Linked DNA regions of Homo sapiens: regions 2 and 3 are each reported to be linked to region 1. Evidence: microRNA targets listed by miRTarBase, many of them from high-throughput screens and not tested one by one. Region 1 holds a microRNA gene; each other region holds the end of a gene's coding sequence.

Region 1 (7,842 bases):
TGACCCAGACCCTCCAGTCCCACCTGGTGCGCCGTGGAGCAGGAGGCCCCCAGATGCCAGCAGCAGGCCACCCCGGGTTGGGGAGTGCACGGCGTTCATTACCTGGAGGCGGGTAGCACTGCAGCAGCCGCAGGAGCTTCACCGAGAGCCAGGGTGCTGGGACGAAGTAGTAGGTGTAGTCCTGGAGGTCGGTGGAGGCAGAGGAGACGATCTGGCGGGGAAGAGCAAGAAATAAGTTGGGGGCTGGGGTGGGAGGGGCACGTGGGTCCACATGCCAGGGTGGAGCAAATGGTGCCTTCCAAGGGCAGTGCTGTCAGTGTTAATGGTTTTGTTAGTGGGTTTTTTTTGTAGAGACAGGGTCTCACTATGTTGCCCAGGCTGGTCTCGAACTCATGGCCTCAAGCAATTCTCCCACCTCAGTCCCGCAATGTCCTGGGGTTACAGGCATGAGCCACCATGCCCGACCAATGCAATGGTTTTATGAAGCAGGAATCTGAGGCTCTGGGAAGGGAGCGAGGAAGCGTCAGGCACACTGAATGGGGGCAAAACTAGGACTAAGCCCGGCTGGTTGATCTTTCCAAGTAATGCTGGTGTGTGGTGGGCAGGAAAGGTCTCTGCTGGTTCCCTTCTGTGTGACAGTTTCCCAGGGCCCCCTCCTCACTCGGCTCTGAGCCTCCCATGCCCCAGGCTTCCTCCGTCAGAGCACACAGCGCACCGGCTCCTGGAGGCTGTTTCCTGTAGTCCCCCTACAAGGCTTGAAGCCACTCAGGGGCAGGGATTGGGTCTGACCCTTTTTTGGGTCCCTAGGCCTAATACAAGGTCAGATAGGAAGAGGTTCGGGGAAGAGGCAGGGAATTAGTGAAAGATTGAAAGATCATGGCCAGGTGCAGTGGCTCACGCCTGTAATCCCAGCACTTTGGGAGGCCAAGGTGGGTGGATCACCTGAGATCAGGAGTTCAAGACAAGCCTGACCAACATGGTGAAACCCCATCTCTACTAAAAATACAAAAATTAGCTGGGCGTGGTGGCACATGCCTGTGATCCATGCTACTTGGGAGGCTGAGGCAGGAGAATTGCTTGAACCCGGGAGGCAGAGGTTGCAGTGAGCCAAGATCACGCCATTGCACTCCAGCCTGGGCAATAAGAGCGAAACTCCATCTCAAAAAAAAAGAAAGATCATGTGACTTTTTTTCCTCATTGCAAACTCCTATTCAACCTTGAAAAGCCCTTCTCCAGGAAGCTCTGTCCCACCTCCGTGCTGGTCTGTGTTCCTACCTCACTGTCATCCTGGCACACTGCAGTACTCAGATGTGTGATGAATGAATGAAACAATGACTGAGGCTGAGTGCAGTGGCTCACACCTGTAATCCCAGCACTTTCGGAGGCTGAGGCGGGAGGATCACTTGAAGCCAGGAGTTTGAGACCAGTGTGGGCGACAAAGCAAGACCGATCTCTACAAAAAATACAAAAATTAGCCAGGCACCTGCAGTCCCAGCTACTCGGGAGGCTGAGGCGAGAGATCGCTTGAGCCTAGGAGCCAGAGGCTGCAGTGAACCATGGCTGCACTACTGCACTCCAGCCTGGGCGACAGCAAGACCCTGTCTCAAAAAAAAAAAAAACCTGAGAAAGAAACAATGAGTGGGCCAGGCGCAGTGGCTCACGCCGGTAATCCCAGCACTTTAGGAGGCCGAGGCGGGTGGATCACGAGGTCAGGAGATCGAGATCATCCTGGCTAACACGGTGAAACCCTGTCTCTACTAAAAATACAAAAAATTAGCCGGGCATAGTGGCAGGCGCCTGTAGTCCCAGCTACTCGGGAGGCTAAGGCTGGAGAATGGCGTGAACCTGGGAGCTTGCAGTGAGCCGAGATCGCGCCACTGCACTCCAGCCTGGGGACAGAACGAGACTCCGTCTCAAAAAAAAAAAAAAAAAAAAAAAAAAAGAAACAATGAGTGGATGCACGAGCTGGTGTGTTCTTCTCTTTGCCTGCGAATCCAGGCCTCTTCCTGACTGCCCAGGAGATGCGCATGTGTATTCTAAGTCTCAATTCTGGGATCGCCGCCCCCAGGAAGCCTTCGTGGACTCACAGGCTGTGTTAAGTGCCTCCTATGGGTGACCTATCCTACCTCCATTATAGCACGAGTCACCCCTTTTCTGACAATCTGTGACTGAGTCACCTCCCTGCCAGAAGGACAGGGAGCTCCTTAAGAGCAGAGCTTGGTTCTGACTCATCTGTGTCCCTGGTGTCACCCGACATGGAGCCTGGCATGCACAAGGCCTCAGGGGATGTTCCTGGGCAGGACAGGAGCAAAGGTGGGAGAGGGACGCCAGGCAGGAGTGAGAGGCTGCACAGGAAAGAGAGAGGCGGGAGGCAAAGCCAGAAGAGGGAAAGTGGGAGACAGAGAGAGAAGTGGGAGAGGGAGGAGGTCATGAGGGCGGCTGGCTCCCGGGGTGCTCGGCCCGCGAGGCCCTGTTCTGAGCACTCTATCCACAGCGCTCTGTGCCTCCAGGTGGGCACCGGTATTATCCCCACTGAACACAGGGGGCAGCTGAGGCCAGGGAGGTGAAGCCACTTGTCCAGGGCCACCCAGCCAGGAAGAGGCCGAGCCAGGATGAATCCAGCTCAGAGCCTGAGTTTGTAAACCTTGGGCTGGGCTGCCTCTCAGGGAGAGTGGGGGCCTGAGGGGTGTCAGAGGGCATAGGGATGCCAGGGCCACCTCCAGCAGCCAATATCTAGGCCACACCCACCCGGCTCAGGCGCGACACAGCCAGAGAGACGCACGTCTTGAAGTCATCTGGGTTCTTCTTGCAGAGACAGGTGATGAGGCTGACGGCGGCCGTGACCACACCCTGCAGGGGCAGAGGAGAGACAAGTCAGGCCCCTGGGGGAGGTGGTACCTGAGAGCAGAGGCTCAGGAGCGGGACAGGGTCGGGATGTGTGTGCAGTCGGGAAGATGGGGTTTAGGGGTGTGCACATGTGTCACTGTGCGTGCTTTAGGGGTGGGGTGAGGAGGCCACGGGGCCTCGGGCGCCATGGCCAGCACTGACCTGGGTGTGTGGGGTGTCCCTGGCAGGACCCCAGGCAGCTGGGTAAGGAGCAGTGAAGGGGCGAGACTCTAGAGGGTTGGGACTGTGGGGGTGGGACAGTCAAGGTTTCTGCGCTGGTGCGCAGGTGATGGGCGCTGTTGGGGGAATCTCCAGGTATTAGAAACAGAGTGGGATTTTCTAAGGGACTGGGTGGTTGGTGAGGGGTGTGGGGGTCACTGGACAGGATCCCTGGCCAGCCAGGGGAGTGTCAGAGATGGGGATGGGAGGGTTTCTGGACACTTGGGCAGGTAATGAGTACCGGGGACACTGGATCATGGTTTCTGGTGTCTGGTGAACGTCAGCGCCGAGGGGGAAGCTCCAGGAATCCAGGGGGATCAGGGCTGAGGTGGGAGCCCCAGGCATCCAGGGGGCGTGAGGGCTGAGGTGGGAGCCCTGGGTATCCGGGGGCGTGAGGGCTGAGGTGGGAGCCCTGGGTATCCGGGGGCGTGAGGGCTGAGGTGGGAGCCCTGGGCATCCAGGGGGCGTGAGGGCTGAGGTGGGAGCCCTGGGTATCCGGGGGCGTGAGGGCTGAGGTGGGAGCCCCGGGCATCCAGGGGGTGCGTGGGCTGAGGTGGGAGCCCTGGGTATCCGGGGGTGTGAGGGCTGAGGTGGGAGCCCCGGGCATCCAGGGGGGTCAGGGCTGAGGTGGGAGCCCTGGGTATCCGGGGGTGTGAGGGCTGGGGGCTCACCATGTGCTGGTCATTGAGCAGGTGTACCACACGCGCCGTCCACTCGCCCATGGGCACCAGGTCAGGCGAGGCCTTGTACAGTCGAAGGAGGCACAGGGCCGCACTCTGCTTGACACTGTCCATGCTGTCCCTGTGGGGACACCATGCAGGGCAGGGGAAGCAGAGTCAGTGACCCCAGCCCTGCACACCTCCCCTCCTCTCCTGTTCCTCCCAGGAAGGGTGTGCGAGGCCAGCGAGAGGGACAGACAGCCAGGCGGCCGCAGGATCCAGTCTGGCGCTGACCTCACGGCCCACCAGGACTCAGTGTCTTCATCTGCAAAATGATTGCATCTCAGTAACCTCACAGGGCTCAGGAACATGTCAAGCCTGGCTCTGCACCTTCATTCATTCACCAAGCACCTACTGGGTGCCCATGGGGTACCAGGCACTGCTGTTCACTCCATGGATAGAGTGGTGAATAAAGTGGTCCAAACACTTGTCCTCACAGGGCTTACATTTCAGACAGCACCACGAAAACACATACATCAAATACTGTCAGGGCTGGGCATGGTGGCTCACGCCTATAATCCCAGCACTTTGGGAGGTCGAGGTGGGAGGATCACTTGAGGCCATGAATTCAAGACCAGCCTGGGCGACAGTGAGACCCAGTCTCTTCAAAAATACAAAAATTAGCTGGGTGTGGTGGCGCAGGCTTGTAATCCCAGCTACTCGGGAGGGTGAGGTGGGAGGATTGCTCGAGACTGGGAGGTCGAGGCGGCAGTGCACCATGACTGTGCCACTGCACTCCCTCTAGCTTGGGCAACAGAGTTAGAGCTGTCTCTAAATAAATAAAAAAATTTAAAAATAAACAAAACAGAGTAACTTAAGGAGGAAAGACTGAAAATCCTCTGCAACAGAACATCCCAGGCAGAGGGAACAGCCTGTGCCAAGGCCATCAGGAAGGCGGAGCCCGTGTGTAGGAGGAGCAGCAAGGAGGCCTGCAGGCTGCGGCCTGAGCCATGGGGCAGGAGGGCTGCAGATAGGACAGGGAGGGAACAGAGAGCCAGACCCTGCAGGGCCTTGTTGGCTGAAGTGAGGACTTGGCTTTTTACCGATTGGGAGATGAAAGCCGCTGTGGGTGGTGAGCAGAGAATCAGCGTGATGTTAACACGACAGCAGGAACAGCTGCCCCCGGACCCCTTCGGCCTGTCCAGCACTCCCACAGGTCTCTGGGTGGATTCACACGTTTATCTTCTCTCCACAACAAACTGAGAAAATGGGTGTATTTTTGATCTGGCTTAGGTTTTTAAAGGGTCCCTCTGCCTGTTGTGAGGGAACAGACTTTGCAAGGCTCTTTTGAATCCAAGGGAATATATTCACAGGTTCTGGGGGTTAGGGTGGCTCACGCCTGTAATCCCAGCACTTTAGGAGGCTGAGGTGGGAGAATCACTTGAGCCCAAGAGTTGGAGACCAGCCTGGGCAACATGGTGAGACCCCCATCTCTACTAGAAATATGAGAATTAGCCAAGCGTGGTGGCGCATGCCTGTAGACCCACCTACTTGGCAGGCTGAGGTGGGAGGATCGCTTTAGCCTGGGAGGTGAAGGCTGCAGCCTGGGTGGCAGAGCAAGACCCTGTCTCCAAACAAAAAAAAGGGTGGGGGTACTTTGCAGATATGATAAAGTTAAGGATCATGAGATGGAGAGAGGATCCTGGGTGATCCAGGTGGACCCAATGTCATCACAGGGTCCTTATAAGGGAAAGATACAGTTCAGAGTCAGAGATGATGTGAGGATGGAACAGAGGTCAGGCAGGAGAGAAGATGCCACACTGCTGCCTTTGGGGATGGGGGAAGGGGCCACGAGCCAAGGAAAGCAGGTGGCCTCTAGGAGCTGGAGAAGGCAAGGACGCGGCCTCTCCTCTAGGGCCCCCGGAAGGGACGAGCCCTGCCCACGCCTTGATTTTAGCCCCGTGAGATGGATGTTGGACTTCCGACATCCAGAACCGGTGTTTGACACCGCTGTGCTGGTGGTAATTCATCACAGCAGTCACAGGAAACCAGGGTCAGCACTTGCCTGGCACAGAACCTGGCAGCCAGCGGGCAGCCCATCTCAGAGGGCTGACTCCAGGCCCCAACCATAACCCAGCTCCTAGCACAGCAAAGAGCATGGAGCATGATGTTGTTCTAGAAGAGGATCCCAGGGGAGCACCTTCTGGGGTCAGACACGCCTGCATGAGGTTGTGACTGTGGGGCACAGATGGGGGTAAGCCACTGACCCTCTCTGATGGGCTGTTTCCCCTTCAGGAAAATGAGGAGCCTTGTCGGCTTTGGGGAGAAAGAAATAAGATGGTGGGCCAGGCATGGTGGCTTACACCTGTAATCCCAACACTTTGGGAGGCTGAGGCAGGCGGATCACTTGAGGCCAGGTGTTTGAGACCGGCCTGGCCAGGCCAACGTGGTAAAACCCTGTCTCTACAAAAAAAAAAAAAAAAAAAGGCCAGGCGCAGTGGCTCACACCTATAATCCCAGCACTTTGGGATGCTGAGGCAGGTGGATCACCTGAGGTCAGGAGTTTGAGACCAGCCTGGCCAACATGGTGAAACCCCATCTCTACTAAAAATACAAAAATTAGCTGGGCATGGTGGCACGTGCCTGAAATCCTAGCTACTCGGGAGGCTGGGGCAGGAGAATCGCTTGAACCTGGGAGGCAGAGGTTGCAGTGAGCTGAGATCTCACCATTGCACTTCAACCTGGGAGACAGAGTGAGACTCCGTCTCAAAAAAAAACAGAAATGAGATTGTGTGGTGCATGGCCATAGCCTTGAGTAAGAGGAGGTGCTGGGAGCTGTCAAGACTGGCCCAGCCATGGCCTATCAGTAAAGGGTTTCCCAGAAAGCACCCAACAGACAGCAAAAGACACAGGGGAGAAGTCCTCAGAGGGGAGACCTGCACGAGTCAAAGGCCTGTGGCAGCATGTCTCACTGGATGTGCAGCCACCCAGCAGGTGGCTCCTGCCGTCATCCAGGCAGATACTCGCCCGACTGACGCCTGTTGCTACGGCCTCCTAAAGTGCTGGGAACCCTCGTGTGCTGCAGCTGGAGGCGGACACAGGGACAGGCCCTCTGGAGAGGCTCTGGGCTTCCTCTGTCTAGAAAGGCCACTGCTGTGTGTGCAGCAGACCAAGACCAGCAGTGCTGCCCCCAGACGCTCACCCTACAGAAACGTTCACTGCCCAGTGGTCATCAAGTTAGAACCAGAAACCAGCAAGAAGCCTGGCCACAGACGATGCTCCATTTGTGACGGCACTTTCCCACCTCCGTCACAGCGCACATCTCCCGAGCCCTGACTCCAGGCCACTTTCCCATCTCCGTCACGGCGCGCATCTCCCGAGCCCTGACTCTGGGCCACCTTCCCATCTCTGTCATGGCGCTCATCTCCCGAGCCACAGTGCATCTCCCGAGCCCTGACTCTGGGCCACTTTCCCATCGCTGCCACGGCGCACATCTCCTGAGCCACAGCGCATCTCCCGAGCCCTGACTCTGGGCCACTTTCCCATCGCTGCCACGGCACACATCTCCTGAGCCACAGCGCATCTCCCGAGTCCTGACTCTGGGCCAAACTCTGCTCTAAGTGTTCCCGCACAGCTCGCTCGCTCCCCACCACAGCCCTCTAAGGACGCGGATTCTATCATCTCCATTTACAGATAAGGATACCACACAAAGGAATAAGAGCTATTTATCAACTTGGTTAAGTGGAATAAGGGCTATGGCGCTACTTAGGAAAATGTTAAACTACACAATATCAAGCTGCATATTCAAGTATAAAAAATAAAACCACAAGTCAGGCGCGGTGGCTCACGCCTGTAATCTCAGCACTTTGGGAAGCTGAGGCCACGGAGGATCACTTGAGCTCAGGAGTTCAAGACTAGCCTGGGTAATATAGTGAGACCCTGTCTCTATAAAAAATTCAAATATTAGCCAGGCCTGGTGGCTTGTGCCTGTAGTCCCGGCTGCTGGAGTGGCTGACGTGGGAGGATCACCTGAGCCTGGGAGGTCAGGGCTGCAGTTAGCTATGATCATGCCACTGCA
Region 2 (4,320 bases), not on the chromosome of region 1:
CAAACAGCTGGCCATGAACTCTATCAAGTGAGTGTCCTGTGTCCTCCCAGGTCCCCCGCCTCCTTCCAGCCCGCAGCTTGTGTTTGCCTCTCTGGAGGCTTGAGGCAGATGCCTCGATGGTTCCTGTGGGTTCCTTCTCATCATGGCTGTTTAGTCCTTGCTGCTGGCCTGGGGAGAGTGCTCTGCAAGGCTCTAATGTCCTCTCAGGCTCCCTGCCCCGTTCCCCAACCCCTGCCCTGAGGCTGACCTGGGCTCCTCCTCTTCCTGCAGGTACAGTACCCTGTTGGAGAGTGAGAAAAATACTTTCATGGAAATCTGGAAGAAGAGATGGGATAAGTTCATAGCAGATGTGGCTACAAAGTGAGGAGAAGCTAGCCAGCCCTCTACAAGCTGTCTTCTTGCACACGCTGTCACTTCCTCTCACTCGTTCTTGAATCAGCTCCATGTGCCCATGAAATCAATGGCCTCTGTATGGAGCGACCCTGTGAGAAGCACTTGGCTGGCTGAGCAAATTCATCCTCTGGAAATATTCTCTCTCAGCCACAGTGACATTGACCCTCTTGGTTTTCTCCTGTCTCTGGCCATTTCTTCCAGTTTCCCTATTTCAGAGTCTTCTCCTCTCTCTGATCTCTGTGCTGTTTCCTCAGGACTCAGTCCTGGGCTCTCTTCTATTCTGGTCTCTTTATTTTTTTATTTTTGTATTTTTTCGAGATGGAGTTTTGCTCTTGTTGCCCAGGCTGGAGTACAATGGTGCGATCTCAGCTCAGTGCAACCTCCGCCACCCGGGTTCAGGCAATTCTCTTGCATCAGCCTCGCGAGTAGTTGGAATTATAGGCATGTGCCACCACACCCAGCTGATTTTTGCATTTTTAGTAGAGACAGGTTTTCACCATGTTGGCGAGGCTGGTATCCAACTCTTGACCTCAGGTGATCCACTCGCCCCTTGGCTCCCAAAGTGCTGGAATTACAGGCATTAGCCACCATGCCTGGCCTATTCTGGTCTCTTTAACTCTCTCCTCTTTATTTCTCTTCTCTCTCTGTACACTTTTCCTGGGTGGTCTCATCCATTCCTTTGCTTTTTCATACCATTTATTTGTTAATGATTCCCACATTTATTTATGCACTTGGAGAGCTCACAGGAATCTCAGAAACTGATGAGGTACAATTCTGAACCCTCAGTCTCTTCCCTTTAAACCTTTCTTTTTCTCTACTTTAATTTTTCTAAAGAGTGTCTTGCTATGTTGCCCAGGCTGGTCTCCAACTCAAGTGATCCTCCTGCCGCAGTCTCCCGAAGTGCTGGGATTACTGACATGAGCCACCACACTCAGCCCTTTAAACCTTTCCCTGGCCTTTCCCATAGCTGGTGAAGGACACCTCCATCCATTCCACGCAGTTGCTCAAAGCAGAAATTTTCAGTGCAAGTCTTGATGCTGCGCCGTCCCCCACTCCCTACATCAGAACGCATCCCTCATCTGGACTCCAGCGGTGGCTTCTTGATGCTGCGCGGTCCCCCACTCCCTACATCAGAATGCATCCCGCATCCAGACTCCAGCGGTGGTGCTCTACCTGCACGCTGTTGCCAAGTCCAAGCTACCATACTCCTGCCTGAGCTATGACAACAGCCTCCTCACTGATCTCCCCTTTCTTCCCTTTGCCTCCTCCAGCTCATTTTTCACAGTGTAGAATGACATTTTGTTTGTTTGTTTTGTTTTGTTTGAGATGGAGTCTCGCTCTGTTGCCCAGGGTGGAGTGCAGCGGTGCGATCTCGGCTCACTGCAACCTCCACCTCCCGGGTTCAAGCGGATTCTCGTGCCTCAGCCTCCTGAGTAGCTGGGATTACAGGCATGCACCACCATGCCCGGATAATTTTTGTATTTTTAGTAGAGATGGGGTTTCACTATGTTGGCCAGGCTGGTCTCGAACACCTGACCTCGTGGTCCACCCGCCTCGGCCTCCCAAAGCACTGGGATTACAGGCGTGAGCCACCCGGCCTGGCCTAGAATGACTTTTAAAAGATCAAATTAAATCAGGTCACTCCTTTGCTTACAACGCAGTGCGTTTAGAGGTACACCCCATGTCTCCACAGGGCATACAGCATCCGATTTAATCTGGATCCATTCCGGCGCCTTCCTCTCCCAGTCACCCAGAGGGCCCCAACCCCGGCGGCCCTTTCTTCCTCAAATGTCCTCGGCTCTATACCGTGCCTGGGTCTTTTCTCTTTCTCTCTGCCTGGAAGATTCCTTCTTTCCCCTTTTGTCTTGCCCACTCCTGTTTACCCTTCAAGTTTCAAGTTCATGTCACTGTCTCAGAGAGGTTTTCCTGTGCTCGCCCTGTTTCTCTCAGGAAGCCTTGCTCTTTTCCATCATGCCTCTAATCACAGCTTATAATCGGATATTTATTTCTGTGTCTACAGTCTTGCCCTGCCAGACTGTATGCCCCATGTGGGCAGGCGCTCATGATTGTTTCTGATTGTTTCACGCATGCTGCTAACCCAGAGCCTGGGCCCAAAGCTAGTTAGTACTCAATAAACAATGCATTGAATGAGTGGCTGTCACTGTGTCTGTTCAGCCAGCTGCCAAGGCAGAGGGGAGTAGAGCAGAGCCGCCCCAAATAAAAGACCTCATGTGATCAGAGTCCAGCTCCTCACCTGGCCTTGGAAGAAGGATGCAAGAAGCCACCTCTGTCCTCACCCAACTCAAGGATGGCAGGGAATCAAAGAATTCCTCAAAAGCCCCAGGCGAATGTCCTCTCATCCATCTTCCATGACCTGTACCTGAGCTCTCAGACAGCAGCAAGCCCTCTCTCCATTCCTAGTTTATCACCATTTGGTTCCTGGAACTGGGAAAAAACAGCAACCATAAGCTGTGCCTGGATGGAAGAAGACAACCTCTAGGGTCCTGTCTAACTCTGCAGGTGATTCAGTGCCTTACCCAATCCCTGAAGATCTTTTAGGTCCCAACTGCGCAGGGGACCTCCAACACAGGCAGACGCAAACAGCCTCTGGCCTGGACTTGCTGTGATCTCTGATTTGGCAAAATGAACCAGCAATAGTCTTGCCTTTGTGCTTTGTGTCCAGTTCTTCCTTCTTTTTTTTTTTTTTTTTTTTTTTTTGAGACAGAGTGTCTGTTGCCCAGGCTGGAGGGCAGTGGCGCGACCTTGGCTAACTGCAACCTCTGCCTCCCGGGTTCAAGCAATTCTTCTGCCTCAGCCTCTCGAGTAGCTGGGTTTACAGGCACCTGCCATCACGCCTGGCTAATTTTTGTATTTTTAGTAGAGACGGGGTTTCACTGTGTTGGCTAGGCTGGTCTTGAACTCCTGACCTCATGATCTGCCCGCCTCGGCCTCCCAAAGTGCTGGGATTACAGGTGTGAGCTGCCACACCCGGCCTTTTTTTTTTTTTTTTTTTTTTTTGGAGACAGTGTCTCACTATGTTGCTCAGGCTGATCAACTGATCTCAAACTATGGCCTCAAGTTATCCTCCTGCCTCAGCCTCCTGGATACCTGGGATTACAGGCACTAGCCACCACATCCAGTCTTTAAGCTTTTAAATTCAACTTACAAAGCTTGTTAGTTCTTCCTTCTTGACTTTATTCCTCATTGCATAGGCCTAGTCCTATTGAACTAAATGTCCATGGAGCATTTATCTGATCATTTTGAAATAATTTCAAAAAGTTGCAAGAATAGTACAAAAAACTCTTACCAGGCCAGGCACAGGGGGTCACGCCTGTCATCCCAGCACTTTGAGAGGCCGAGGCGAGTGGATTGCTTGAGCCCAGGAGTTTGAGACCAGCTTGGGCAACATGGCCAGACCTCATCTCTACTAAAAATACAAAAATTAGCTGGGCATGGTGGGGTGTGCCTGTGGTCCTAGCTATTCAGAAGGCTGAGGTGGGAGGATTGCTTGAGCCCAGGAAGAGGAGGTTGTAGTGAACTGAGATCACACCACTCCACTCCAGCCTGGCCAATAAAGCGAGACCCTGTCTCAAAAAAACAAACAAAAATAACAACAACAACAACACAAACCTCTAACATTCTCTTTGCCCAGGTTCCCCCAGTTATTAACATTTTACAACATTTGATTCCATATATCATTCTTTCTCTGTTTCTAATTGCTCTCTCTATATATCCTATTTTTTTTAACCACTCGAGACTAAGTTGCAGATATTATGCCTTTTATTCCTAGATTCTCCAGTGCACATTTCCTAAAGACAGTGACATTCTCCTATGGAGCCACAGTACATCCAATCAAATCAGAAAAGTATTAACATTGAAAAGACGCTAGTATCTGGCTCTGGCCCTGCTGAGCTTTGTTTTGTTTTG
Region 3 (4,320 bases), not on the chromosome of region 1:
GGGTGGGGCCCCTGATGGGAGCCCTCCTGGCCTCACTGATCTACAACTTCGTCCTGTTCCCCGACACCAAGACCCTGGCGCAGCGGCTGGCTATCCTCACAGGCACCGTAGAGGTGGGGACAGGGGCAGGGGCAGGGGCGGAGCCCCTGAAGAAGGAATCCCAGCCGGGTTCGGGAGCCGTGGAGATGGAGAGTGTGTGAAACAGCCTACGCCTGGCCGCGCCCTTGGGCTTCCTGCCTTGCAGGACCTGCCTGGAGGTTCTCCCTGGGGGTGGCGGGAGGGGGAGGCTTGACCTTTTGTCCTGACCAGGTGGGCTGGAGGGGACAAGCCCTATCCCTGGCATTACGTTTCTAGGTAGAATCTGGGAGTGAATTTGTCCCATTCCCTCTCTGTAGGGCTTCCCCACCTCTCGGTGGGACAGAGCAGAGGAAGGCAGGGGATTTAGGATCGCCCTCCCATCCTCTCACCCACTGGACCCCGTAGGAGTCCTGACCCCAGATGCCCAAGTCTTGGGGGAGAAAGGAATGGGAGCCCAGACAGCCACTCTGCTTAGACATGGGAGCTATAGGGACCTCAGGGAGCCCCAGCTTCTTACCCACCCAGGAAACCCTTGGTCCAGAGAGGACAGGCTTTCTGGAGGAATCAGGCCCTGGGACAGCCTCTGAGCTCCTGGGGGTGTTTCTCTGACCTTGGGTGTGGTTTTGGGGGCTATATTTCCTCCTTCAGACTGGGGGCTTCCTGAGGACAGAGACTGCTCTACCAATAGATCTTTGTTTGTTTTGAGACAGAATCTTGATCTGTTACCCAGGCTGGAGTGCAGTGGCATGATCTCGGCTCACTGCAACCTCTACCTCCTGGGTTCAAGGGATTCTCCTGCCTCAGCCTCCCAAGTAGCTGGGATTACAGGCGCCTGCCACCACGCCCAGCTAATTTTTTGTATTTTTAGTAGAGATGGGGTTTCATCATATTGGTCAGGGTGGTCTCAAACTCCTGACCTGAGGCGATCTGCCCACCTCGGCCTCCCAAAGTGCTGGGATTACAGGCGTGAGCCACCGTGCCCGGCCTCTCCCAATAGGTCTTTATTCCTCAATCCTCCAAATGCTCTGGAGAGGCCCCCACCCTTGAGAAGAACTGACACAGAGAAGAACATTTTCTCAGGCTCGTAGAGAGGTGGGATAGAGGAAGGGAGGTTTGAGCCAGACAGGCCTTTCCCAGGGAAGCCTCCTCCCAGGTGCTTGCCCCAGCTCCCACCCCACAGCCCACTCTCAGGCAGGAACAATCCTCAGAGGGGAAGTGCCCATCTAGCCATTGACTCATGACCTGGGTCAAAGAAGCCGTCTCCAGGCTCTCTGTCAGCATTACAGGATCCCCAGAAAGCTGTTGAATAAGCCCTAAGGGTGGTAGGAACCCAGGAGGGACCCAGGAAACTAAGATTTGAGATTCAGTGCCTCTGAAAGACTACCAAAATCTAAGTTGGTTTAATAGTTAAAAGCTGCTGTAGATTTATTCTGCCCACAACTTGGGGGTCCTTTCTGGATCTCGGCTTCTCCAGCTGTAAAATGGACACACAATCCTCCTCCAGGGACTGCTGTGAAATCAAGAAATCGGAAAATACTTTCAGAAGTTAAAATGCTAGAAAAACAACCCCAATAAATGATGATTATTGTTGCTGTTACTGTAATTATTGGGTATGAAGACAATTGCTGTTGGTAATGAGAGGGAGGAGGGGAAAAGAGAGAGAGAAAGATGATTGAGAGGGAGGGAAGAGAGACTGGGTTTTCTCTCACATCATTGGATCTACTTAACCAGGGACCCTGTGTGCTCTTCTCCTGGGTCTGCTGACCTTGAGGCTTTGTGGGTGTGAGGGGCTGTGGGAGGGCCCTGGAATGAAGAGGCGAACCAATAAAATCAGTTCTTCTCATCTCTATGACGCCCATCACCATGGTACCCTAAGATGCAGCAGCCAAATTCATATAAAAGATGGGTCCTGGCGGCCAGGCACGGTGGCTCACGCCTGTAATCCCAGCACTTTGGGAGGCTGAGGCGGGCAGATCACGAGGTCAGGAGATCGAGACCATCCTGGCCAACATGGTGAAACCCTGTCCCTACTAAAATATAAAAAATTAGCCGGGCGTGGTGGCGCGTGATTGTAGTCCCAGCTACTTGGGAGGCTGAGGCAGGGGAATCACTTGAACCCGGAAGGTAGAGGTTTCAGTGAGCCAAGATCACGCCACTGCACTCCAGCCTGGTGACAGAGCAAGACTCTGTCTCAAAAAAAAAAACAAAAAAAACAAAACAAAAGATGGGTCCTGGCCTGGTGCAGTGGCTCCCACCTGTAATCCTAACACTTTGGGAGGCCAAAGTGGGAGGATCGCTTGAGGCCAGGAGTTCGAGACCAGCCTGGACAACATGGCAAAACCCTGCCTCTACAAAAAATTAAAAACTTAGCCAGGCATGACGGCTCAAACCTGTAATCACCAACATGTTGGGTGGCCCAAGCAGGAGGATTGCTTGAGGCCAGGAGTTTGAGACCATCCTGGGCAGCATAGTGAAACTTCATCTCTATTATTTAAAATGAAAAATTAATTAAATTAAAATACAAACAAAAGATAGATCCTTTTTAGTGATGTCTCCTGAGGGACTGGGGATGGGGGAAAGGCTGCCCAAGTCTTCCAAGGGCAGTGTGGCAGGCCCAGCCTGTGACCAGTGCAGTAGCTGAATCCCTGGTGCTCATAGCCCCAGTAGCTGTGCTCAGCGTTCTGTAATATCAGCGCAGATACTACTCACATCTCTCCAAGCTGGGCCCCACTCATCCATCTTCACAATCTCTCAGAGTCCAAGGCTGCCTGTGTCCTTTTATGAGCAGGGAGAGCTGGGTGTCTGTATGTATGCATGTATGAGAGCGTATGTGTAAACAGAGGACATGATTGACTTGCTCAAGGTCACCTGGTTCAGGAGCACGAACACTTAAGGTCTCCCCAGCTCCCAGTTGAGAATTTTCCAAAATAGAGCTCCTGGGGGGTTCATACAAGCTGCAGCCCCAGGAAGGAAGGAAACAGGAACTAGAGGATTGAAGGGGATGGGGGCGTGGAGCTCCTATGGTAGGCTCTTAAGCTCCTTGACAAATGATCACTGCTTTTTGTCCCCAGAGCCAAGCACACACTGGGTGCTCAATATAAGTTTGATGAATGAATAAGGCTGGGCAGTTGGGGAGGATGGGAGGCAGTAATAGATCAAGAGGAGAAAATTTCAGGAGTTACAGCTCCAAATAAGCCAGTATGACAGCAGCTGAGAAGCCTATGCTTCCAGGCAGGGGCTGGGGAGAGGGTGCATCGCCAGATATTTGCTGTTCCACCCACAATTTCAGAGCAGGCTTCACAATGTCTGTCCCAGGAACATACAGGCCAAAATATGAGGGGTTGCCTGAAGAGAAAGCTGAGGGGCTATTTTCACTAACAGTTCTTCAAAGCAGTTCTGTCAGGACAGAGCAGGAGGAAATAAGTTTCCTGAGAAGTGGGGAATTAGGTTAGCCTCTGAAGAGCATCCAAGGTTAGACGTGGAAATAAGTAACCAAAGGTTCGCTTCCCCTCCTCTGGAGCCCTTTAATAGGACAGCAGGCCATCTGTTTGGATGAGGGAAGGGCTGGCCTTTGGAGAGCTGAATCTCAGTAGCTCCAGCTGGGGGAAGCAGGCTTCATTGGCATAGCCCCTGGGCCTGGGTGGGGGCAGGGGACATGGGGAGGACAGAGACCCAACCAGGCCAGCCCTTGGTGTGCATTCCCTTCCTCCTGTTTGTCAGGGAAGTTTTTAATTAATGGTGTATAATCTGATCTGACCCTTCTCCCTGCTGAGCACTGCCTTCAATCAGTGGAGCCATCTGCAATTGCAATTCATAATTCTCCCCAAAGGGAGGGGGACTCGGGCCGGGTGCCTTGGTGATTAATACAATTAGCCTTTTATGTTGATGATTGTCTTAGCAGGAGCAGATGATGCTGTGCTGGGAGCCTGGGCGGTCGCGTCCCGATTGGCTGGCAGGAAGCCCCTCTCCGCTTCCCACCCCCACTTTTCATCTTCGATCTACTACCTCCAGGTATAAAGAGGACAGGCCTCATCTGGGGTCATACTGTGCAAGGGGGAAAAGGCCAGGAAGGGGTAGGGCTCTGAGCCACATTTGGTCTCCTAGGACTGAAGGAAGAGTAGAGTCACACCATGATCTGGGCGCTTTTACATTCCAAAGAAAATCACTTTCACCTAAAGGATTGTGCGGACCAAAGTTAAAAAAAAAAAAAAAAACTACATAAACATAGATCGGGAGTTGACA

The links. Region 1 holds the annotated microRNA hsa-miR-6799-5p (GGGGAGGUGUGCAGGGCUGG, at 3,951-3,970, opposite strand). A microRNA usually pairs through its seed, bases 2 to 8, with sites in the 3' UTR of a target mRNA and lowers its output. Matches are read on the target gene's strand: a 7mer-m8 pairs with bases 2 to 8, a 7mer-A1 pairs with bases 2 to 7 and ends in A, and an 8mer does both.
Region 2: miRTarBase lists ADA2 as a target of hsa-miR-6799-5p. Seed matches in the 3' UTR shown: 7mer-m8 at 1,785-1,791 and 7mer-A1 at 1,952-1,958.
Region 3: the mRNA of AQP6 is a reported target of hsa-miR-6799-5p. Seed matches in the 3' UTR shown: 7mer-A1 at 452-458, 7mer-A1 at 883-889, 7mer-A1 at 1,019-1,025 and 7mer-A1 at 1,224-1,230.

The regions. Positions count from the first base shown.
Region 1 is chr19:49,787,999-49,795,840 of GRCh38, reverse strand. MIR6799 (microRNA 6799) reads right to left here and starts at 3,975; the gene lies at 3,907-3,975. AP2A1 (adaptor related protein complex 2 subunit alpha 1) reads right to left here. Exons shown (of 23, transcript NM_130787.3): 5 at 3,777-3,906; 6 at 2,749-2,850; 7 at 103-211.
Region 2 is chr22:17,177,527-17,181,846 of GRCh38, reverse strand. ADA2 (adenosine deaminase 2) reads left to right here. Exons shown (of 10, transcript NM_001282225.2): 9 at 1-27; 10 at 271-3,057. The coding sequence ends at 364. Among named protein-coding and RNA genes, the nearest start is that of HDHD5-AS1, 20 kb to the right of the region's middle.
Region 3 is chr12:49,975,472-49,979,791 of GRCh38, forward strand. It overlaps AQP6 (aquaporin 6), which reads left to right. Exons shown (of 4, transcript NM_001652.4): 4 at 1-1,668. The coding sequence ends at 200. It overlaps LOC105369764 (a long non-coding RNA gene), which reads right to left and starts at 34. Exons shown (of 3, transcript XR_001749143.2): 1 at 1-34.